Regions from separate parts of the Homo sapiens genome. Here all the other regions are linked to region 1. The links come from fine-mapping of genetic effects on gene expression. A gene starts in region 1. Each other region holds a variant in brackets. All regions are shown on one strand. Distances are from middle to middle.

What was found. PIP is the estimated chance that this variant, and not a neighbour inherited with it, causes the effect. A credible set is the group of variants that fine-mapping cannot tell apart.
Region 2: its variant is the best candidate, but not a certain one, in a credible set for the expression of LINC00899 in cerebellar hemisphere (GTEx, PIP 0.76).
Region 3: its variant is the best candidate, but not a certain one, in a credible set for the expression of LINC00899 in visceral fat (GTEx, PIP 0.80).

Annotation. Positions count from the first base shown.
Region 1 is chr22:46,040,304-46,048,263 of GRCh38, reverse strand. LINC00899 (long intergenic non-protein coding RNA 899) reads left to right here and starts at 3,396. Exons shown (of 4, transcript NR_027036.1): 1 at 3,396-3,655; 2 at 4,565-4,701; 3 at 5,624-5,690; 4 at 7,212-7,960. LOC124905135 (collagen alpha-1(III) chain-like) reads right to left here and starts at 3,620. Exons shown (of 2, transcript XM_047441696.1): 1 at 3,257-3,620. LOC124905136 (a long non-coding RNA gene) reads right to left here. Exons shown (of 2, transcript XR_007068137.1): 2 at 7,827-7,960.
Region 2 is chr22:45,998,929-46,006,888 of GRCh38, reverse strand. It overlaps the pseudogene LOC730668. Among named protein-coding and RNA genes, the nearest start is that of WNT7B, 26 kb to the right of the region's middle. RefSeq lists enhancers at 1-612, 5,686-5,855. The variant G/A (reference allele first, on the strand shown) is at 4,021.
Region 3 is chr22:46,021,302-46,029,261 of GRCh38, reverse strand. No RefSeq gene overlaps it. Among named protein-coding and RNA genes, the nearest start is that of LINC00899, 20 kb to the left of the region's middle. RefSeq lists an enhancer at 1-502. The variant A/C (reference allele first, on the strand shown) is at 3,997.

The DNA.
Region 1 (7,960 bases):
AGCCGATCCTGGCGAGGAACCCTGGGCCTCCGGACACCTTGACTTTTCTCTCCAGTTTCCTGAATGCCGCAGCCAGCTTTCTGGGGTAGGTTTATTTCCCATGCAGTGACTCCTTATATTTTGTCCAGGGTTTCCAAAATCAGGGGCCCAAGGACATTAACCTCAAAAAATCAAAGCATATATTGGCTGTCCCCCGGGACAGTGGCTGCCTTGTTAGGAGGTGGGTGGGGTCACTGGCACAGCCCTGGCATTGCTAAATGGGCTGTTGGCAAAAAGAGGAAACAGGGCTCTGTTCTGTAAAAACATGCGTGAGCATTTGCAGTGCTTTTTCTGGAGACTGAAATCTTTCTGTACACCTCACCAAATTTTCAGAAGTTTCTTATGAGGTATGTGTTTTCTCCAGTAAAACCAGGTGCCTCTGACTCAGGGGCACTGCCTATGGACCTGTCCTACATCTCTTTCTACCAGTTAAGGCTCAAGGATGCCTGGGTGACTCTGTCCTACGGCTTCTGCAGCCACACTGCCAGATAGGTGGTGAGCTGCCTGTCTCTGGAGGCATTCAACAAAGGCTGCACAGGAAACACCTTCTCTGGCATTAGCCTAGAGAAGCTCACCTGAGGGTGTCACTGCACAGGGTATCTGGCAGCTTCTAAGGCAGGACCTTGTCGTCTTTTCTCTCTGTGCCCAGTACTCCATACAGGAGTATAGGTGTGGGGGAGGTGTTCAGTGACTGTTTCCTTTAGGGTACGGAAACAAGTGCCAGAAGGTGGTGAGGTAAGCGATGCAAAGTTGACATGAGATGTAGGAGAGAAATTCCTGAGCTGCCCAGAAGCAGGTGATGTGCGAGAGAAGCCAGCAGCCACGGGCCCCTGGAGCAGCAGCCGCTGATACTGAGTGCCTGCCGTGTGCTAGCGGAGTGATCGATGTTCACAGCGATTGTCACCGTTCTCCCAACAACGCAACTGATACAGAACTCTTTTTGTTTGTTTTGTTTGTTTGTTTGTTTGTTTGTTTTTTTGAGACAGAGTCTCGCTCTGTCACCCAGGCTGGAGTGCAGTGGCGCAATCTCGGCTTACTGCAACCTCCGCCTCCCGGGTTCAAGCAATTCTCCTGCCTCAGCCTCCTGAGTAGCTGGGACTACAGCTGTGTGCCACCACACCTAGCTAATTTTTGTATTTTTAGTAGAGACAGGGTTTCATCGTGTTGGCCAGGCTGGTCTGGAACTCCTGACCTCATGATCTGTCTGCCTCGGCCTCGCAAAGTGCTGGGATTACAGGTGTGAGCTACCACACCTGTCTGGCAGAACTCTTATTAAGCCCCTTTTATGAGTGAGGAAACTGAGGCCCAGAGAGGTGAGGTTACCCAGCTAGAATGAGGTAGCGCTGGCAGGTGGAGGCAGGCCTGCCTCAATGCAGAACTTCCCTATAAGCCCAGGATTTTTGGTATGCTGCGACTCTACTGCCTGGGACATGAAGAAAGTTCAAGTTCAGGTTCACTTTCTGCATCCTATCTTTCCTTCATTATACCCTGGGCGGGTATAGAAGGTCCCCCAGAGGGTTTGGGGATGGGGCAGGTCAGGTTCCTCATTTTAGGGAGATTTTAACTTTAAGTGGGCTCGAGCAAGTGTTAATTACCTGGACAGTTCATGCCTGTGGAGGCCGACCCTCCCTGTGGTGCTGGGTCCATGAGATACAGACTCTCCTGCCTCCCTGCTCCCCAGATCCCCGGGGTCTCCTGCTCAAATCTTGGGCTGGGGCCAGGGTCACTAAGAAATCTGCTTTCTTTGAACACTAACCAGTTCAGGCGTACACAGGAGTTGCAGTCTCGGGGTGGGGGCATGGGTTGGGTTCAACCCCAGAGTGTTTCCTCTGTCCTGCAATGTGCTCAAATTTTGGACATTTCATGTACAAATCTGGATTTCTTCTGAAGTCAGAAGCTCTAACAGCCTCAGCCCTTATCCTCATGGCAGCAACAGGCTAGAGCCAACTGGGCACTCTGTCCCCTGCCGTCACTGCAAACACCCTCTGTGCTCCAACTGACGCCTGTAGGCTGCCCTGTGACAGCCCTGCCAGAGAGTCCAGGGACATGGTGGGGTGACCCACTCAGATTCTGGCTGGCCAGCCCTCTCGGCTTGGGTGCTCCCCTGAGGAGGACTTTGGGAGCGTAGGCACCCAGGGATGGAGGCAAGTTAGCAATGCTCTCTGGAAGGCTGGGGACCTGGCCACCACTGGGAGTAAGACCTGACAGATGGTCCCTGCTGTGGTTGGGGGCACCTGATCAAACTGGGAGGCTTGTGGAGGCCCAGGCCCAGGACAGGTCTGTGAGTTTCCAGGGCTTTGCCACCGCCGACTGGTGGGGTAGGTTTCTATCCCAGGAGTGCCCCCCAGGGATCAGACCAGTCACAGGGACAGAGGCCTTGTCTCAGGCGGAGAGAGTGGCATGCAGAGAAGCTAGCTGGAGGTATGGGCTGGGCCTGTTGCAGACAGGAATAGGGGAGGCAGCAGGGTCCCTCACCTGCTCCCCAAGGAACAGGCTCTACAGGGCCCCAGCTTCTCCTCCTCCCCAGGCCCTGTCCATGGCTGTCCTGTGACCCAGCACCTGCCAGGCTCACTTGGCACTGTGGTTGCCCCAAGCAGAGCCGACAGGACAGTTGGTGGCCAGGGAGTCTTGCTCAGGATGGTCACCCAGGACGGTCAAGGGAAGTCACTCAGGATGGTGCTGGGGGTGTGGGGGGATCAGGAGCAACTTCCACCTGAGCCCCAGGACCGGAGCATTGCAGCGGCGAGGGGCTTGCCTCCTTGTGCTGTCGGGGGTCCCTCATCCCACAGGCCCTCACCTCCTGTGCTGCCCCTGGGCAGCCTGGCCTCGGAGGGTCAACACCTGAGGGCCCGAGGGGCATCCATGCCCCCTCCTCCTTCCCTCCAGCCAAAGGTGGGGGGCAAAGCGCAGGGAAGAAAACACCAGGAGAAAACCAGAGAGCTCTCGGTTCTCTTTTAAGAGCCCTGATGGCCGCAGCGCAGAGCCCGAGGGGAGGGAAAATGTCGGGAAAGATTCTCTTCCGAACTTTGCGAGTCTTTGTTTGGGAGGCTGGGGGCTGACTTCGCCGGGGGCCGGGCCGCGGGCTCGGCCGTGCGCTCCGGTGCAGCGGCCGAGGAGCCCCGGCGCCCGCCACCCCGGGACACGCCCTCGCAGTCGAGCCCGGACCCCGACCCGGACCCCAGCGCCGCCGGGCGAGGGCGGGAGGGGGAGCGCTTACCAGATCGTCCCGAGCGCGCCGCGGTCCAGGCGGGCACAGCGCAGGGTCAAGTTCACGTCCGGCCCGCGGGCTGCCCGAGGTCCCCGGGCGCGGCTGGGGCAGCGGGAGGCGCGGGAGGCCGAGGTCCGGGTGGCCGCCGCGGCCGCCCCCGAAGCGCTGCTGTCACCCCGGCCGCGCCCCCCAACTTTCTGCACAGTCGCGGAGCTGGAAGTTTCCGGGCTTCGCGGACACGCTGGGCTGGGTTTCAGTCGCGGCTCCGAGGTTGGCAACAAAGAGGGAAAGAAGGAGGAAAAGCAGGCCGGGGAGGGGAGGAAGAGAACCGCGCGGAGGCCGCGGCGCCGAGAGCCCCAGAACTTCCAATTCTACCCAGAAGCTTTTTTCGTCGTGTTTTTCTCTTAGGTAAACAAGCAAGTTCCACGCCCCAGTCCTGCTGGGGCCTTCGCCAGCCACCGCTCTGGGCTCATCTCCCGGCGCCTCCTCGGGGCACCTGAGCGTTTTAAGCCCCACTGCCAAGTGTTTTGGACACAGGTTTTTTTGCGGGGTGGTGAGGTTGGGCACAAGATGCTTCCTAAAAGGTTGTTGGCACGCAGACCATGGCCCCAGTGACGGAGCGGTAGGCAGGGGCTTGAGGAACACGCTGTCTTTGTCTCGTCCCCAAAGCACCCGGCCGTGGGTCACCCGTGATCCCTGGAGTGGAGGGACTGTTGTGACCCCTGGTGCTCCAGGAGAAGGGGTTCCATGCTGGGTCCCGGGCCCAGGCCCACGGTGCCCTCAGCCTGCAGTTCTCCACCTTGCGGAATGATTTGCTGGCCCGGCCCAGCTCCCCGGCACCACCATTTTCTGCCCTCTTTTCCCTGCCTGGCTTCAAACCCTCCCAGGCAAGGGTCCCGAGGAGACACCTGGGCTGGGGGAGGCAACTGAGTGGCCCCAGGCCTGGGAATCTGCAAAAGTGGCCAAGCCACATCTCTCGAGACTGCAAGGGCCCTGGAGGCGCTGGGAGGCACAGATCTGGCTGCCAGCTGGGCCTGAGGCCTCCCTTTGTCCGTCCTTCCTGTTCTTCCTCACCAGGTGTGTTTACGGAGAAGACACTCCGGGCCAGGCCAGCTCCTCCAGAGCACTATTTCAGGCTGGGGAGAATGCGGATTTTTTTTTTGTTGTTGTTTTTTAAAGAAAAATGAACAAGGAGCCTGGTTGGGGATTGGGGTGGGAGGAATATTTGTCTTTTGTCCCACAAACGTGTGTGATGCTCCAAAGGGCTGGAGAACCTCTCTCTTAAGTGGATATTTTTCCCCTCAAACGACTTCTCAGACATGATCCTCTCTGAGGTTGGTCCTGGGCTTCCATACGTGATTCATGGAAGAGGTCTCAGCCCCAAGAGCCCCTGAGGGTACTGTCCACTCCCCCTGGAAACTTCCAGAACCTGACGTGGGGCTGAAGACATAGAGGTAATGGGGATGGGCTGGTGGGGCGCTGGCTGGGACAATGTGTGGAGCCCTTGTTTTCAGAGCTACAGATGCTTGTCAGCTGACAGTTCGTTTCCAGCATCCACAGTGGACCTCCTTTGGGGGAGCATTTACCTGCCAATGAACCCCAAGATCCTTTCTCAGAGGCGGCGGGATGAAGTTTTCCTTTTTTTTTTTTTTAGTTAATATATTTTATTTAAACCAATATATCCAAAATATTATCAGTTCAACATACGATCAAGATAAAGATTAATGAGATACTTTACATTTTCATACTAAATCTTTTTTTAAATTTTTGTGAGTACATAGTAGGTATAAACATTTAGGGATGAAGTTTCTTACTGTGTTTTCCCAGTAACAAGCACTGGCATCAGCTGTCATGATTTCTCCCCAAGGCCTAGGATGGTCAGCCTCGCACGCTCCACAGCAGAGTGACTGAAGCTCTATCGAGGTGTGGCACGAGCGTGTTGTCATTTCAAGAGAATCTGCAGCCTCCCTGGTTTTTAATGAAAGCTCCTATGCAGGGCCTGGCCCTTTCCTGGGGAGGGAAGGCTGGCTGTGTCTCCCGCTGCATCCTCACTGGGAACTTCATTCCTGAGCTGCGACCGCTATTTTTTGGATTGGAAAATGCCTTGGGAACGGCTCATCTTCCTGCGGCTTGAGCCCATTTGTTTTCTGACTGGTGGTCACTGGTGATTAGAGTGTGTCCCAAAGGGAACCGTCACCTTAGTTCTATCATACACTATCAATAACTTGTCCAGGGCTGACTTTGTGGCTGTGTGGCTTGCCCAGTGGTAGAGGGCCGGTGTGCAGAAGGGCCCCACACTCAATGTTTGGCTGTCCCCGGTCTTAAAATTCTTAGTCATTCTTGAACAAGGGAACCCATATTTTCATTTTGTTCTAGGCTCTGAGAGTTACATAATTGATTCTGACTTTGGCTGTTGGTCAACAGTGTCATAAGGTAAAATAAGGTAAAAATCTATGATTTTTATATTTCTTTTTTTCTTTCTTTCTTTTTCCTTTTTTTTTTTTTTTTTTTTTTTGAGACACAGTCTTGCTCTGTCACCAGGGTGGAGTGCAGTGGCGCAGTGGTGCGATCTTGGCTCACTGCAACCTCCGCCTCCCGAGTTCAAGCGATTCTCCTGCCTCAGCCTCCTGAGTAGCTGGGACTACAGGTGCGCACCATCATGCCCAGCTAATTTTTGTATTTTTAGTAGAGACGGGATTTCACCATGTTGGCCAGGGTGGTGGTCTCGATCTCCTGAACTTGTGATCCGCCCACCTCGGCCTCCCAAAGTGCTGGGATTACAGGCGTGAGCCAACGTGCCCAGCTGATTTTTATATTTCTTTTACTAAATTCTGTTTACAGAAATAATTCCAGATTCTATGTAAGATACAAATATTTTAACTGAAGATCATTGTATTTAGGGAAAATGTTCACCTTTAAGAGACAGGGGCTGGGCGTTGTGGCTCACGCCTGTAATCCCAGCACTTTGGGAGGCCGAGGCTGGTGGATCGCACGAGCCCAGGAATTCCAGACCAGCCTGGGCAACACGGCGAAACCCTGTCTATGCAAAATATACAAAAATTAGCCAAGCATGGGGGTGTGCACCTGTAACTCCCAGCTACTCCAGAGGCTGAGGTGGGAAGACTGCTCAAGCCCGGGAGGTCAAAGCTGCAGTGAGAGACCTTGTCTTAAATACAAACAGGCAGGAAGTCGTTATAAGCATAATACAATCCTGGATGTTGGAATCATCCCTGTCCAGCCTTGGCTCTGCCACGTGGGTGCTGAATGCTGCCTCAGGGACCCTGGTGCCCAGCTCCCACCTGCAGGGTGTTCTGAGGAGCCAGCACGCTGGGAGGGCCTAGCAGGAGATGTGGCATGAACCAGGTATTCGATAAATAAAAAGTGCCTTTGATTGTCACGTTTATCATTTGACATGTAGGCACAGGTGCAGTTTGATTATTTTTAATGTAAGTCTATTTTATCTCTTCCCGTTATAAAAGCAATACACACTGTGATAGACGGTTTGGAGAATTCAGGAAAGAAAAAGAAAAAGAAAAAAAATTCCTCCTAGGCCCTCTGCTCCAGAGCCTCCAGCCGTCACATGACAGTGTATTTCTTTACAATTACAGAAATAGATACGTGACTGTTACATTTTGAAACTTTTTCTTTTACCTTGACTTATTTTTAAATAGAAACACTAGTGAGGCCCCACAGAACTGAGCAGAACTAATGGCCCCCCATGTGGTGGAATAGTTCTGAGCTGGCCCCACTTTGGATGCAGCCTTCCCCGGCAAGTCTAAACCCAGTCTCTGTGGCTGCCTGTTCACAGGGACCGTGGACTGTGATGTTTACAGTACGAAAGCACTGGGAGAGAACGCTACATCACAAAGTGTCCTTAACCTGCTGCCGCCTCAGCTTTCCCATTTGTGACTTGGTTAAAAAAAATTTTTTTGACAGTTTTAAGCTCTTATTTTAATTTCCACAGGCTGTTGTAGAATCTGCTCAGCCAGGGAGGGGAAAGGAGTCGGCAATCAGGTCTCCTCCTGGGCACCTTTGTGAGGCCAGCTGGCGAGAGTGGGGGGTGACACTGAGGTCCCAGCAGCTCCAAATGCAGGCAGAGCCCTGTCCTCAGAGAAGGTCACAGCCTAGCCAAGCCCAGCCAGGTGGATGGGCCCACGGAACGCACAGGAACCTGGAACGGAGGTTGAAAGCAGGAAGCACAGTCTGTGACTCCCCAGCCCACTCTGCATTCGACCACTTGGGGCCCAGAAGCTTCAGGAAAGGTGCACAAGGTCACTGGGTCCCAGTACTCCCAACAGGAAGGTCTGGTCCAGGGACAGGGCTCTTCCCGACTCCCCTTAGCCACACGCACCAGAAGTTCTGCAGTGCCCAGTGGGCATAGCAGTCCCCAAGAATGACCCAGCACTGAAGCTGAGCCAAAGAACTTGGGGAGCGAGCCACACCCCCTCACTCCCTCTTCGCCTGCTCCAGACTTGCCAGGCGGTTGCTTTTCGTGGGAACCGGGATGTCCTCACCACCCTGTCCAGGGCCCAGCCCCATGTCCCTGGCCTGCTACAGCTGGAAAAAAAAAAGAGAGATGTTTGTTTTTATTTGTTTATAAAAAGAAAAGTGTTATATATATAACATATTATACCTCATGAATACATACAATTATTTGTCAATTAACAATAAAGAAAAATACAGCAAGCAAAAAAGACTCTCTTCCACAAAAAT
Region 2 (7,960 bases), 41 kb after region 1:
CTGGGCCTATTTCTGACTCGAATTTGTTGCGAAACGTCGGCAAATCCCCTGCCCTGGCTGGGCCTCAATTTCCCCATCTGCAGACAGGAGGCGGGCGAGAGGGCCCCCTGGACTTCAGGGCCCGTGGGTCTGACGGCCAGGGCTGCAGCTGAATCTCCGAGTTGGAGATGCCTGGTGGGGTGCAGCACACCCTGCGTGCACAGATGAGGGCCGGGCTGGCTCCAGGCGTGCGGGAGGCAGCAGTGGAGCTGGGATCGGAGTCTGGACTCCTCTGCTGGCCTCGAGTGACCCCGGGGGCCTTCTTGTCCCCCCTCCTTGCAGGAAGCACAGGCACCAGCTCCTGAAAGCAGAACAGCTCCCCTCTGCTGCCCCCTGGTGGCTGCAGTGACACATGGTGGCCCAGTCCAGAGCCAGGGCACCCCCAGGGTCACCGACACCCTCAAAGTCATGAGCTCCCCTGGGGCCATGGGTGTCGTAGGGCTGGGGCCACCCTCTCTGGGAGCCCTGGGTGAGAGTGTCACTTGTGATATTTCATTGAATCTTCACCCCTCCCACACACAAGAGAGGGATGATCATGTTTGCCGCTTCACAGCTGGGTTGTCAGTTTCAGGGGGCAGAGCCTGCAGGAAGCTGGGGCCGGAGAGGTTTGAAGTCAGATATTCCAGTGGAAAGTGCTCCCCTCCCCTCCAGTCAACAGCCACCTGGGGCTTCAGGCTCTAGGAGGGGAGGAGTGGGTGGGGAAGGTCGAGGCTTATTATTCTTCGGGGTGTGGGGGTGGTCACTAAAATGGGACCTGGTGGCCGGGCACAGTGGCTCACGCCTGTAATCCCAGCACTTTGGGAGGCCGAGGCGGGCGGATTACCTGAGGTCAGGAGTTCTTGACCAGCCTGGCCAACGTGGTGAAACCTTGTCTCTACTAAAAATACAAAACTTAGCTGGGCATGGTGGCACACACCTGTAATCCCAGCTACTCAGGAGGCTGAGGCAGGAGAATTGCTTGAGCCCAGGAGATGGAGGTTGCAGTGAGCTGAGATCATGCCACTGCACTCCAGCCTGGCCGACAGAGCTGGACTGTCTCAAAAAAAAAAAAAAAAAAAGAAAGAAAGAAAGACGGGACCTGGCTTCCTAACTGAGGGAAACTGAAGAGAAGGGCCCAGTTCACGGGAATAAGGTGCCAGTTTGGGATGCCCCTACAGGGCCCTAGGTGCAGGGGACAGGGCTGAGGGAGCGGGGGAGGCGCCAAGATGTCAAGGCCGGCAGCCGTTCTCCTGGGGCAGAGGGCCAGTGCCCATGCCCGCACCTTGGGTCCCCAGGGCAGCCAGGTGGAGCCATACCACCTCCTCGGGCTTCACCTGCAAGCCCAGGCCCTGTGCTCACTGAGCCCCCACGCCCGCCAGGCCACTTCCAGAGGCTGTGCACACCCTCTGCCCAGATCCAGGAGAGGGGCTTTCACACAAGGAGGGAGAGGCTCAGAACCCTGGCAACCTACCCAAGGCATGGCACATGGGGCTACACGGGTGGATTGGAAGCTGGGTTGGCCACCTGAACCCCTGGGGTCCTGGCATTTCCAATGTCACCATCAGAAGGGTGGATGGAGGCCGGGCGTGGTGGCTCATGCCTGTAATCCCAGCATTTTGGGAGGCCGAGGCAGGCGGATCACCTGAGGTCAGGAGTTCGAGGCCAGCCTGGCCAACATGGTGAAACCCCGTCTCTCCTAAAAACACAAAAATTAGCCAAGCATGGTGGCAGGTGCCTGTAGTCTCAGCTACTTGGGAGAATGAGGCAGAAGAATCGCTTGAACTCGGGAGGCGGAGGTTGCAGTGAGCTGAGATCACACCACTGCACTCCAACCTGTGCGACAGGGCAAGACTCTGTCTCAAAAAAAAAAAAAAAAAGAAAAAAGTAAAAGAAAAAAGAATGGAGGACGGAAGGGCCACACCATGCAGGTGCTGGGGTCCTGGCGTTTCATTTTCAATGTCACCATCAGAATGGAGGATGGGAGGCCGCCCCGCGAATGGAGGGCGGGAGAGCCATGCCATGCAGGTGCTGCCTGCTTGGGTTCCTGTGCTGGGACTGCCTCTCTCATCTATCACCTTGCACCTCCATCGCTGTGACACCCTTCACCCGCCGGGCCCCCACAAAACATGCTTGGGCTCTGCAGCCAGACTCCATCCTCCCCCACCAACCGTCCGACTCCTAGAGCCCTCTCCTGGACCCCCAGCACAGCGCGTGCGTGACGGAACCCTGCAGAGCCACTTCCTGTTAGAATCAGAAGGGCTGTCAGCCACTAAACCCAAGTGCCAACTTTTGGTGACGGAGAAATAGATCCAGATAGAGGGAGGACTTGATCAGGCCCAGGGTGGCCAGAGACCCTTTGGACTGCGACCAGAATCCCAGGGGCCTGTCACCGGCCCAGCGTCTGAGGTCCTGAATCCCTGGAAATCAATAAAGGCAGGCAGGTGGGAGGCTGGAGGCCTCGCAGCCCACCCAACCCACATCCACCACACTCTCACACCAAGCCCTCAGCGTGCTCGGAGCATGGCGGTGGGCTTTACCCCTCCAGCCCCTCTACCTGGGATGCCACACAACTCTTCAGGGCCAGGGGAGTCCCCTCCTAGGGCCACCGTCCCCAAGGCACCCAGGGATGAGTCACTCTCTCTCACCCCAGGCCACCCAGGAGAGTTGACATCAGTCACATGTCTGCCCCTCAGACTGGGAGAACCCTGGAGCAGGGACCCCATCCCCTGCCTCTGTGAATCCCTAGCATTGGCCCATGGTGTGAACACCAGCAGCCACAGCACTGAGACCTAGCCAGGGCTTCCCAGTTTCCTGGGCACCAGCTGTTCTTCGCAGCCTCTTCCATGCTTGCTGGGAAGCAAGGTCTATCATGACCCTAGGCGCAGAAGGACAAGAAACAGAGAGGTTGAGTAAGATGCCCGACGACACACAGCTGGAGTCAGCAGAGGCTGGAAGGGTGCTGGGCGGCCTGGCTCCCAGCACGAGGCATCCTACCTGAGGACAGTAGACGGGCAGCTAAAGGACCCTCAGCTGACCACACAGGCCGGGCCTGGGCATGTCTGCGGCATGACCCCCTTGGGCCTTGTCACCTCCTCTCATCCCCTAGATCGCAGGACAGCAAGGTGGTCACACCCAGATTGCCTGAGTGTGCATTCTTTCCTTCCACGTCGGAGCACTTGGTCGGAATCCTGCCCACACAGGATGCACCTCACGAGGTGTTCACTCACCAGTCTCCCAGAGCAGAGGGGTCTGGGGAGAGGGGACACAAGATGGCATTGGGAGTGACAGCAAGACTGACTGTCTTGCGGGGCCCTCAGGCGCTGGCCTCCAAGGCCAGGTCCCCCAGGAAAAGCCTAGACAGAGGGGAGCAGGAAACCCGGTCCCAGCCCAGGGCGCCCACTCCCTGCCGGCCAGGCCAAGCCTCCCGCGTCCGGCCTCCTGGGTGCTGCTCACTCATCCATCAGACCAGTGTGATGGGGTCATTCGCTCCCATTCCCAGGCGGGGGAGGCTCCAGGAGATGTGGGTGGATGTGGGTTTACCCTGTGGATGGCCTGAGGCCTGAGGACTAGGAAGGTCCATCTATCTGTCCCTTGGCAGATGGCCACAGTGCCCAGGGCGACAACAGGGTGAGCTCTGCTCACATGGGTCCTGATGCAGATAGGGGGTGTCTGGGCCCCTGTCACCCCTGTGGAGTCTTCCTCGCCTTCCTCTGGGCGGGTCTTCTCAGGTCCAGCTCAAGGGCATCTGGGAGGGGAGGTGGCCTGAAAGCTCGGAGGCCCTGCAAAGCTGGCTGCAGTTAGGAAAGCCACTAAGTCATTATTTTGGGGTTAAATCAGAACTAATCTACCCAAGCCAATGGCTGGGTCCCCTGAAGGGAGGACACTCATGACTCAGCTGCTTGAGCCTGGGGAAGTGGTGTCCCTGAGATCCAGGAATGTGAGGGAGGATGACACCATCCACCAGGCCTGGCCCAGCGGGAGCAGCTAGTGTGGCTGCCTCTC[G/A]CTGTGCCCACCCCACCCTCAGCATCTGGCTTTGTCCACCTCTGGCCAAGGCCCACTCTGTTTGGGCTGCACTGTTGCCCGGAAGCCCTCCATGCCCCAGCGAGAGTCTCCCTCCCTGGCCTCTGTCCCTCCATTTCTCCATCAGTGGCCACCAGGGCAGTTTTCTTTTTCTTTTCTTTTTTTTTTTTTTGAGACGGAGTCTCACTCGCCCAGGCCGAAGTGCGGTGGCACGATCTCGGCTCACTGCAACCTCCGCCTGCCGGGTTCAAGCAATTCTCCTGCCTCAGCCTCCTGAGTAGCTGAGACTACAAGCACGCGCCACCATGCCCGGCTAATTATTTGTACTTTTAGTAGAGATGGGGTTTCACCATGCTGGTCAGGCTGGTCTCGAACTCCTGACCTCGTGATCTGCCTGCTTCAGCCTCCCAAAGTGCTGGGATTACAGGCGTGAGCCACCGCAACCAGCCCACCAGGGCAGTTTTCTTAAAAGGGGACCCTGCCTGGTTATGGTAATGGCTCTCCTGCTGGCCCTGGGGGCGGTTCAAGCCTTCAGGGCAACTCTCAAGGCTTCCAAAGCACACCCCCACCCCTCGTTCCTCCCCCCACTGCTCCTTCCCCTTTGACGCCCCCTGCTCTGCTAGGCTGGGGATGTAGGGTCTGAATGTGCCATCTGGACCCACCAACCCCTCACCCAGGCTGTGCACCGGAGAGACCTCACTGTGGGACACAGGAGCCAGGGTGGGCAAGGGGGTAGGGGGCTGCTGCCGTCACCACTGAGGAGTACAGCCCCACCCTTGGCCTTGAGCAGCCCCCAGTCCTGCGTGTGGGGCCGCCAGGCTGCAGGGGGCCTGGACCCATGGCGGTGGCTGTTGATTCAGCTGTCTGGTTGGCGCCAGCTCCCCTGCTGGGGCCGAGTCTTTCTGGAGTTAGACCCTGCAGCCCTGTCCCCACTGAGCCAGCACGAGGGCAGTGACCGTCTCAAAGCAGCTCTTCTCCATGGAAGTCTTAAGGGGCCCCTTGGCCGGAGTCCCACGAGTGACAGCTGGCAGCCCTCTTGGCTCCCTGGGGGAAGCAGATAGTGTGGCCCCTTAATTTGGGCCACTTGAGGAGCGTTTAAAAACAGGACAAAGGCGTGGGCCCAGCTCAGGAAAAGCTAGGAGGGAAGGAGCCGTTCTCTGGGGCTGGTGGCCAAACGGGGAGGTAGCTGCAGCCACTGGTGGCAGGGACCCTTAGGCCTCCTGCCAGTGCCTCGCGCCGGCAGAGGCCACGGACAGGTCCCAGCACAGGGAGCTGGCAAACGTGCCCACAGGGTCGGCCTCTGGGCCAGCTGGAGCAGGTGCAGTGAGGGGCTGGGAAGGCATAGAGAAAAGCGGCAGCGGGGCTCTGAAGATGCAAGCCTGGTGGCTGGAGCATGTTCCAGTGAGGGACAGGCAAAGCTGCCAGGGCAAAGGGCGGATTTCCTGATACAGGAGTGGAGGATGCTGTGGAAGGGCTGGATCTCCCATCCAAGGCGTCTCCTAGAGCCACACCATGCCCCATCCAGGGTGGTGCTAATGCTTCTCCCCTGGGTCAACTGGGCCTGTGACCACCCCGTGAGTGGGTGGTGGAGGTGCCATGTGAGCACTGGGCTGGGCTGGGAAAGCCCCTGCATCTGCCTGGCTCTCCAGGGGTGCTGGCTGGTGGAGCTCAGATGATACCAAGTGAGGAAACCTTGATTCTGGCCCAGCCCTGGAGCTCCCTCTAGCTGAGGCCCCCACTGGGGGGAACAGAAACCAGGCACTCCCACTATGACCCATGGAGCATAAGAAAGTGGCTGTTGTCAGTGTCTATGTTTTGGGGTAACTGGAGAAGCCCCAAGGCTTCCCTGGTCTCCCCTGAACACTCTTGCACCTTCTGGCCCACGTGGCTCGGGGCTCTAGAGGCCACAGCAGGTCAAACGAATGCCACCATCTGTGCTCACTCCAGGGGACCCCCGTGTCCTTGGCCTGGATCCACCTGCATCCAGGCTTGGCCTGTATGGAGCCATCATCTGCCCAGGGTGGAAGGGGCAGGAGACATCGAGGGGTAGGGTGGGGTGGAGGAACTTTCTCTTACAGCCACGTGAGAGGCCTGGTCTGCCCAGCGGGGTCCTGAGCTGTTGGTTCTCCAGGCACCTTCAGAGCCACTGGGTTGGGGGTTGGCCAGACTGAAAAGACTGGATGCTCAGGGCTGTGCTCCCTCCGCACCTGCCCTACCTGCAGGGAGGCAGGAGCCCAGCTGGCCAGTGGTTGGGTGAGGACAGAGGTGAGGGTGCTAGGAGCAGCCACTAGACACAAAACCAAGTCCCTCAGCACAGGCCCCTCATCTGGGAGGCACCTGGATGGGAGGACAGGTCCGGCCAAAGAGGTGCACACATGTGGGGCTGAGGAATGGGGTCCCTGCACAAAGCCGGCGTCTGCATCATGGGCAGACAGACCACCATGTCCTCATGAAGTGCTGGCTTCTTTCCTTCCACCTCCTCATTTATAGGGTTGGAAGAGTGACAGCTGAGACCCCAACCTCAAGTGCCCAGGCTGTTGTGAGGACGAAGCAGGGGGCTGTCACAGGTACGGGCTGAGGGCCTGGCAGGTAGGGGCTGTTTCACCTGGAAGCCCCAGAGCCCGGGAGAGTGCAATGCTCCGAACATGTACAGGATGGGAAGGAATTCCACACGCTCTTTTCCTGTGCCATCCCCAGTCCGCCATGGAAGGGAAGCATCAGGAGTAGGATGTGGTGCCTTTTAATTGTACCCATAGAATAGTAATTTGTGTAAACTGCCCCTTTCCCTTTTTGCCTCTGCCACTGGGAAGCTTGGAGCCAAAGCCGTGGGCCTATCTCTGCCTCCACTTAGACCTACCTTCTCTCCCCGTTCCCTTGGTCTTTCACCTCTACTTTTAAATACATGTTCTGATGTTCTGCGGCATCTTTGCTGCACCCCCAAATCCCTTCTGGACAAGGCGACCCCTGGCTCCTTCCTTTGAGCTCCTTGGTTTCTACAACCCTTAAGATGCCCCCACCCCACAGTGGCGAATTTCACTCTCTGGGAAGCGCGGCAGCAGGTGCCTGGGACGCGCCCACCGGAGCCTGGGCTTTGAATCCCTGTCCCCTACTCCACGCAGTGTCAATGTCGCCTGGCCGCCTGCACGTCTGTTTCCTTTGTGCTCAATGCATTTTCTAAGGCAGGTGCCAGGTGGTAGCTGTCAGTGTCATTTCTATTTCTGCTGTTGATTTGCTTGTCTGCTTCTCCAACTGCCTGGCCCCCAGGCTCCTGAGCTCAGCAGGCAGGGAGTGCATACAGAACATCCCCCCACCTCTGAGCTGTCCCCTGTCATTGGACAATGCCCCTAGATGGCACCTCAGGCCTCTGCGGGAGTCTGGGGGCTGTGGGAGTCTGGGGGCTGGTGGAGGCTGTCAGGAGAGGCTGCCCGGAGGAGGTGGTGAGACCTGAGGGCTGAGTAGGGTTAGCCAGGGCAAGGAAGGCAGGGGAGAGCAGATGGAAAGGTGGCTGTGAGGAGCAGTTTGGCCAGGTGTGTGGACAGCCCCTCTGAAGCCAAAGAGTCTAGAAGGTCCTTTGAACCTGGCCCTGTGAGCCTGTGCCGATCGGGCAGAGGGGCCCACATGACAAAGGCACGAGGCATGGCTCCCATGTGCCTGAGGAGGGGGAACAGGGGAGAAATAAGACCCAGAGGCTCAAGTGTGCTGTGCTGAAGAGCAAGGCCTTCAGGGAGGCGACAGGGAGCCACAGAAGGTTATGGGGGGGAGGGTGCACAGCAGGCTCTCTGATGCTTACATTGAACACACAGTTCCAATTTGATTATTTACTTGAACCCAATGACTCCTCTGGCAGTGGGCTTGGCTGTCCTTGCCTGGTGAAGGGATGTGACTTTCTCCCCAAGGTTGCACCTCCTCCAGCCCCAGGCAG
Region 3 (7,960 bases), 19 kb after region 1:
TCCGCCCACCTCAGTCTCCCAAAGCGCTGGGATTACAGGCAAGATCTACTGCGTCTGGCCCTAAGTGATTCTTAGAGCAGCGAGGTACATGTAATTATGTCTACTTCATATTTAAGGTTTGGAGGGAAATGAGAGAGGGCTGGGGAAAGGCCTCGAACCCCCAGGCTAGATTTTCTGCTGTCTGAGGGTCTGTCTGAGGCTGGCTTCTCTCCTTTGGTGCCCATTTCACCGCCTCACCTGGTCCCTCTTTCTTGGGCCTGAGACTGGCTGGGGCTGCTTGTCTATGGGGCCCAGGTTCTTGTGCTCTGGGGGAAACGCACCCTCGAGCATGATGCCCCCAACACTGGGGGCTGTCTCTGGTATCAGGTGGGGCCGCTGACTTCACACGTGCCAGGAGGAAAGTGCTACAGGAAGTTGTGGGTCCTTGGCAACCTCATGCCGGAGGCCCCAGGTCTGCAGTTCCAGTCTCTAGACCTCCTGATGGGCATCCTGGCCAGGCACTGTGTTCCTGCACACACCTTTCTGCAGAAAGACAACTTGCTCACTTCCCCAGAGGCTTGGGGGTGGGGACGTTCCTGTTGGACAATGGAGCCCACACACCCAGTGGGGAGCTCCCAGGAGAAGCCTGCTCCCACCTCCCAAGAAAGGCTCTGAGCCTCTTTCCAAGTACTGGAAATGCCAAATGCGGTGACCTGTCCCCATCCACCATCGTGCAGAGTGACCCACACTGGTGGGCCTTCACCTATCCAACTGTGAGGTCATTCAGTGCGTCCTGGGTGCCACTGTGCTGTGGGAATTCAGAAGTCCTTGCCTACTCGAAGCTCCCAGTCTAGCGGGTGGATGATAATATTGCCTGAGCAGGGCTACACTGTGGGAAGGATGATGATAAGGGCAGAACACTCTGAGGGCTGGTCCCAACGTGGAATGCTCAGCTCCGTTAGTCCTCAAGGCATCTCTGGAGACGGTGACCCAGACTCAGGGCTCAGGGTGACTGTCCCCAGGCCAGCAGGCTGGATAATGGCAGAGCAGGCGGGAGCTGGGGGAATGCCATCTTTACCACTACCTTCCCTGCACCTGCTGGGAGACCCCAGCTCTGGAAGTGCCTCTGGAGATCATGAAGGGCAACCTGCCTCATTGTTCAGGGGAAATCGAGGCTGAGAGAAGATGCCCCAGGCCCCACAGAGAGTCCTGTCAGAGTCCCAGAAGGGTCCTACGCCCCAGGCTCCCCAGCCAGCCATTCCTGCAAGGTGCACCCGCCCTTCTGGCTGGGCAGAAGGCACCCACGGCAGCCGGAGAGGGGGTCTTCTGGCAGGAGGAGTGGAGGTGGAATCGGGTGGAGGCACCTGGCAGCTAGGGTCGTGGGGAGCTCCTGGCAGAGTAAGTGGGGTCTCCTGGCGGCAGGGGAAGCTGGGGGAGGGGGCCTGGTAGGAGGGGGCTCCCGGCAGGGAACGTGAGGGGCTCCCAGGCCGGGCCGGGCCGCCCGCCCAGACGCGCTGCCAGGCTGATTAGCATGGGCGAGGGGCGCTGGCGCGGGGACGCCGCCGGCCGAGCTGGCACGTCCCTCGCGGGCCCAGCTGGCCGGGGCGAGACACAAAGCACCTCAGACGGTGGCGGCGCTCGGCCATTCACGCGCAGGGGCGTCCCGGGCGCGGGCGGCGAGGAATTCCCGCCGCCGGGGCGAAGACCAGCCCCGCCCGGCGCTCCTGACCTTGAACCTTTGTGACTGGAGCGCATGCAAATCGCGGCGGGGCCGCGCCAAGCCCCGAGGGCGCTGCGCCGCCCGGCGTGTCCGGGGAACAATGCGCCACTGTCCCCACGCGGCGCCGCGGGCTGGGAACTGCGCAGAATGTCAATGCGGGCCCCCGGCGCGGCGGGGCGCGGCCCACGGGCGCGTGCGTGTGCGGGTGCGTGCGGGTGTGTCCGGGTGTGCGCATGTGTCCCCGTGTTGGCCCGGGCTTAGCTGGACCCTGGGCCTGGTCCCGGACCCTGCGGCCCTGGCGACCCTCCTGGAGAGAGAGTCCCTTTGCGACCAGGTCCAAAAGATCTTAGGCCCTTGGAGGTGACTGCTTCTCCCTCCTTCCTGCCCTTCTTATTTTTCTTTTATTAGGTTGATTTTTAAAGATCCTGTAAATGATCAGTAAGGAAATAAAGGCTGCCCCCAATGACTGTCCCAACCCAGGGAGAGCTCTGCTGCGTGGAGAGGAACTCCCTCGCCTCCTCTCTCCCCTTGGGGCAAATTCTTCCTCACAGCCCAGGGTGAACTTTCAATTCAGCGTCTTGACTTTTTCCTGGAAAATAACATTTGTCATCAACCTCTTACCAATGTCCCTTTTAAAAACTGCATGGTACTGTTCTGTGCTGTGCCACAGTCCCTGCCACTGGGTTTCCCGGTCACAGGGACAACAGCTTGTCAACAGGGTCTTCCGGGGCCGTAAGTGGATGTGCAAAGAGAAAGGACAGGGACCTCACCAAGAGCTGCTAAACTACAATGTGCTCAACTGAGCCCAGAAAGGCGCCAGGCCCACATGTGTGTCCTGCGGCACCCCTCCCCACCTGCTCAGACATGGTTTAAACAGACAAGACAGAAAAAGCACACGTGCCAGGTAGGCAGCTGCAGCTGATTTTTATGTACATGTGCCTGACCAGGTGATTCCAGCAACTTCTGTAAATTTGGATTGGGCACATTTGTGATAGGTGACAGAGCCACAACCCAGAGTCTGATGTCCCCGCCCCGCAGCTGACTGGCGACCCATCACTTGTCCTCCAGAGACTCGGTATCCTCACCTGATTAGGGGTCTGTGAGCACTGCCTGCCCATCTTGCAGAGGCAGTGGCTGTGAGGGTCCCTGCGCACACGCACACCTGTGTGGGTGGGGAGCGTGCACACAGGTTCATTTCTGCCAAGGTGCTGGGGAGCTCAGCTCTGTCATGGCAAGGGCTCAGGACAGGAGGAAGAGGTTCAGAGAAGGCGATCTTGGGCAAGATGCTCCCTGTCTGGGCCTCAGTTTCACCAGAGCTAAAAGAGGAGGTTGTAGAGACGCTCTCTAAGCATCCTTCCAGCTTCTCCAGATATACATGAATAAGATCACTCTTTCAAGGATGGGGATGGTGTACAGGGCTGGATCCTTCCCAGCCAGGGTGCCTGGGATTATTGGCTTTCAGCAGCCGACTCACGGAGGCCTCCTTTGGGCTAGGCACTGGGACAGACCCCTGCCTCCCCAAAGGCATGAGACCCTGGTCTGCCATTTGGGAGCTCAGAGCCTGGCTAGAGGCAGGAGAGGTGAGGAGGGAAGATAAGGACACAGATGGTGAATGTGGTGAGAAAGGAAGCATGAGGGGGTGGGCATGGTGCATGGGAGAACAGAGGAGGCGATGGAGGAGTCCAGGAAGCCTTCCTGGGAGGCGGTCGCCTGAGCTGAGCCTCAAGGAGTATGAGCAGCTTCTCAACAGGAGAAGAGAGTGGAGAGCACTTTGGGCAGAAAGTTGCAGGCAGAGGGAGCATTCCAGGCAGAGGGAGCATTCCAGGCAGAAGGAGCACTGCAGGGAGAGGGTGCACTCAGGAAGCAGGAGCACTCAGAGAGAGAGAACACTCCAGGGAGAGAGAGCAAGAGGGTGCAGGGTGCACTGCAGGGAGAGGGAGCACTATGGGGAGAAGGTGCACTCAGGGAGCAGGAGCACTCAGAGAGAGAGAACAATCCAGGGAGAGGGAGCAAGAGGGTGCAGCGTGCACTGCAGGGAGAGGGAGCACTCAGGGAGAGGGAGCACCCAAGGGAGAGGGAGCACTCAGGGAGAGGGAGCACTCAGCGAGAACACTCCAGGGAGAGGGAGCAAGAGGGTGCAGGGCGCACTGCAGGGAGAGGGAGCACTACAGGGAGAGGGTGCACTCAGGGAGCAGGAGCACGCAGAGAGAGAGAACACACCAGGGAGAGGGAGCAAGAGGGTTCAGGGTGCACTGCAGGGAGAGGGAGCACTCAGGGAGAGGGAGCACCCAAGGGAG[A/C]GTGAGCACTCAGGGAGACGGAGCACTCAGAGAGAGGGAGCACTCAGGGAGAGAGAACACTCCAGGCAGAGGGAGCAAGAGGGTACAGGGTGCACTGCAGGGAGAGGGAGCACTCCAGGGAGAGGGAGCATTCCAGAGGAGGGAGCACTTAGGGAGAAGGAACATTCTGAAAGAGGAAGGACACTCAGAATTCACTTTAAAGAAATCCTTTCCTTGGGCAAATTGTCCTATTTCTTTGCATTTACAGACATTCTGCCTCATGGGTAGCCAGCAGGACTAGAAACACCAACATTAAAATAAAATATAGAAGTTGGTCCAGCTAAAGGAAATGTCAGGGTGGGAAAATGAAACGGGGGAAGAGGGTGAGTTGAGTTAAAAGAAAAAAAAAAAAAAAAAAAAGCCTGCCTTGAACTCCTGAGGAGTCGCAGGTTGGGAGGCCACTAATTTCTCAGTCCCAAGATTTGAGTGCCTTTAAGGAGAAGCTGGTTGCACAAGAGATGGGCAGGTTGATTCTGGCCCCAAAAGCTGGAGGCCTGTGAGCTGCATGGCATCAGGTCCTCACCATGGCCCCCTAACATCAGGGCAGGAGGAATATGGGGTGCACCTATCAGGGGCTGGCTGAGTGGCGGCTGGGCCCTACCTGCCAGGTCTGCTGCTCTCAGAGTGGGCAAAACCAGGAGAGGAGAGGAAGCCTTGATGTGGCAGGACACACTGCATAGTGCACTCTAGGGTCTGGAGGACACCTGGGAAGGGAATTGGCTCAGACTTGGGAGTCAGGGATGGCTTCCTAGAGGAAGTGATGGTGAAGAGTTGGTCTAATTTTGGCAGGGAGGTAAATCGCTGTAAAATGGAAATAACAGCAGTACCAACCTCCCAGGGTGGGTGAGGAGCAAGCAAGCCTGAAGCACAGTCAGTACTGGTGGCCGCAGCACAGCTTCCGGGTCCTCATTTTGCTGGAAGTCTGGCTGTTCCAGAGGCAAGGCTGGGACATCCTGAGGGTGTCTGGGAGGGAGATCCAGTTCTGAATTCTTGAGTCCTTTGTACTCCTACTAGTAAAATATAACTTCTGAAATGAAATTTATGTCATGATTGATGGATCTTCACTCCCAAAGACATGCTTGGAAAACAAACAAAAGCTTAAAAGGCTGCAGCCCCGAGGTGACTGCTGTGTTGTCAGCCTCACTGACACCTGGGCACCTTGGAGAGTCGGAGCTGGACAGGGCTGTGGTTTCTGGTGGACAGAAGGGGAGACTGAGGCTCTGGGCTTCTGGTCTAAAGCCAGGATGGGCCAGGGTGAGAACCAGTCTCCCGCCTTCTCGGTCTTTCCACTACTTCACCGGATTCCTCGGATATTAGCAATGGAAAAGCCATCCCATGTTTGGGAAGGAGCGAGTCATACTTTCCATCCTGGCTTCTTGCGAACACCTGGGTCTCAGTGAGTCCCCCACCCATCCCACGCAGAAAAGCTGGGCTGCGTCACCCAGGGGGCGGTTAATGAGGATGCTTTGGTGGTGCTGACATCACGGACAGGGCTCCTGTGTGGATCGGCCGCCTGGGCTCCAGCTGGCAGCCATGTGACTTGCCCCCTTGGCTGCCATCGCCCCAGGGAGGGGCCTTGGGCAGAGGGGCTGGCTCAGTGGGCAGCTGCCAGGGCTGGTGGGGGCTGACCAGAGGGTATTGGCAAAGTCTTAGAGGTTTCCGGGCCCAGGAGAGAAGGAAGGGAGTGTGGACACTCGGCCTCTGTTTCACGGCATCCTCCCACCTTTGACCTCAGTGGTGCGAGGGGAAGGAACCAGCCCTGGAGCCGCCTGCCTGGCTTGACCCTGGCTTGCTACTCATGGTCCCGTGTGCCTAGACAAGCTGTTTCACCTCTCCAGCCTCAGTTTCCTTCTGTGTGAAATCGGATAACAATCGTAGGGTGTAATGTGGAAACTGCAGGGAATTAGGAATTAGGACGGTGCCGGGCACATAGTAAGTGCTTAGTAAACGCTAGCATCCTGGAGTCTCCCTCCCTCCACACCCAGGCTGTTTTGACCTGTGCTCTGTACTTCTGTTCGCCAGGCCTGAGGTCCCAAACTGCAAACTGCTCCATGTGGATGGGCTGGGGGCTTCCTTTCTGCCTTATTCCCTCCCTCTCTCCCTCCTTTTCTTCCTTCCTTTCTTCCCTTCCCTTCCCTTCTCTTCCCTTCCCTTCCCCTCCTTTTCCTCCTTCCTTCCCTTCCTCCTTTCTTCTCCTCCTTCTTCATCTCTCCTGTCTCTCTCTCTCTCCCTTCCTGCCTTCTTTCTGTAAACTTGATTACTGTCTGCTTCTGTGCTGGTGTCTGTGCTACTTTCTAGAGACAGAAAGTAAAATTAGACAGATATCGACTCTGTTATTCTGTGCTTACAATCTAGTACAAAGCAGCAGGCATTGGCTAAATCAGAGCAGTACTGTCCAACAGACATTTCTGTGTGCTTGAAATGTTCCATATCTGGACTTTCTAGTGAGACAGCTACTAAATGCATGGGACTGTTAAATACTTGAAATGTGGCTCGTGTGACCCAGGAGCTGAATTTTAAATTTCATTTAATTTTAATTAATTTGCATTTATATTTATTTATTTTTGAGACAGGGTCTCACTCTGTTGCCCAGACTGGAGTGCAGTGGTGTGATCTTGGCTCACCGCAACCTCCGCCTCCCAGGCTCAAGTGATTCTCCTGCCTCAACCTCCCAAGTGGCTGGGATTACAGGTGCGCGTCACCACCACCCAGCTAATTTTTTTATTTTTAGTAGAGATGGGGTTTCACCATGTTGGCCAGGCTGGTCTTGAACTCCTGACCTCAAATGATTCACCTACCTTGGCCTCCCAAACTGTTGGGATTACAGGTGTGAGCCACTGCCCCGCGCCCAGCCTGCATTTATATTTAAATACTAACACGTGGCTAGTGGCTACCATATTAGATGGCACAGATTCACAGTTATACTCCCATTACATCACCCTGTATTATTTCTCCATAACACTTATTATAGTTAATTTAAATTTGTGAGTTCATTTTTTTGTACTCTGTCTTTCCACAATGGCGCGTACCATAGTCTGGTTTCCTTGGAAGCAAAGCTTGAGACAAAGACTTGTCTGCAGACATTTCAGCTGGAAATGAGATTCCTGGGAAAACCAATACAAGGACGTTTCACTGAGTCAGTCACAGCTGCAGGAGGCTCATACCTGCTCCTGACGGGGGTTTCTGGGGGATCTCATGAAATATATCTCAGAACTGACCACCTGTGAGAAGAAAGAGAGCATTTCTCCATCAGCTCAACTTGCCACCAGTCAAGGTGGTTCTGTAGACATTAACTTCCAGCATTCCCATGTTGCACGAGTGTGACTGCAGAGGGCTCCACCAGGACCACTAAGTCGCATATTCAGAGAAGCACCTGGACAGGAAGCAAGAGATCTCCAGCATGGGCCCAAGGCAAGGCACTGTCTGGCTGCTGGCACCCACATGAAGCTGGATGAAGCCACTGTAAGACCGGCTGTGGTGGGAATGGCTGGAGTTGGGGTTGAGAGGACCTTGAAGTGGAGCACAAGAGGGGCCTGGTGTAGTCCACCCCTTGCCTCCCTCACATGTGCATGTGAGTCTTTGATGATGTCTAGTCTGCCACAGAGTTCCCTTCAAGGTGGCAGCCAGCAGCAAGATCTGTAAGTTCTTAAAACACGATTATTAGTGGAACAAGCTATAGTCTCCACTGCTGCAGCTGGTCTGAGGTCGTGATCGATAACCTCATCTCAATCCTCCACCACAATTCCAGATGAGCACTTCCATGGGCCTAGGCTGTGTGGCAGTGGCAGGGCCCTCGCCTTCCTCTTTGGAGGGTCTGAGCCCTCATCTGCATTTGCTTTTGCTGGCTGTGGTTGCTGCCATTGCCAGGTCCCCGCTATGACCACCTTGGAAGTGCCAAGAGGCGCTGCAGTGAATTATCTGGTTC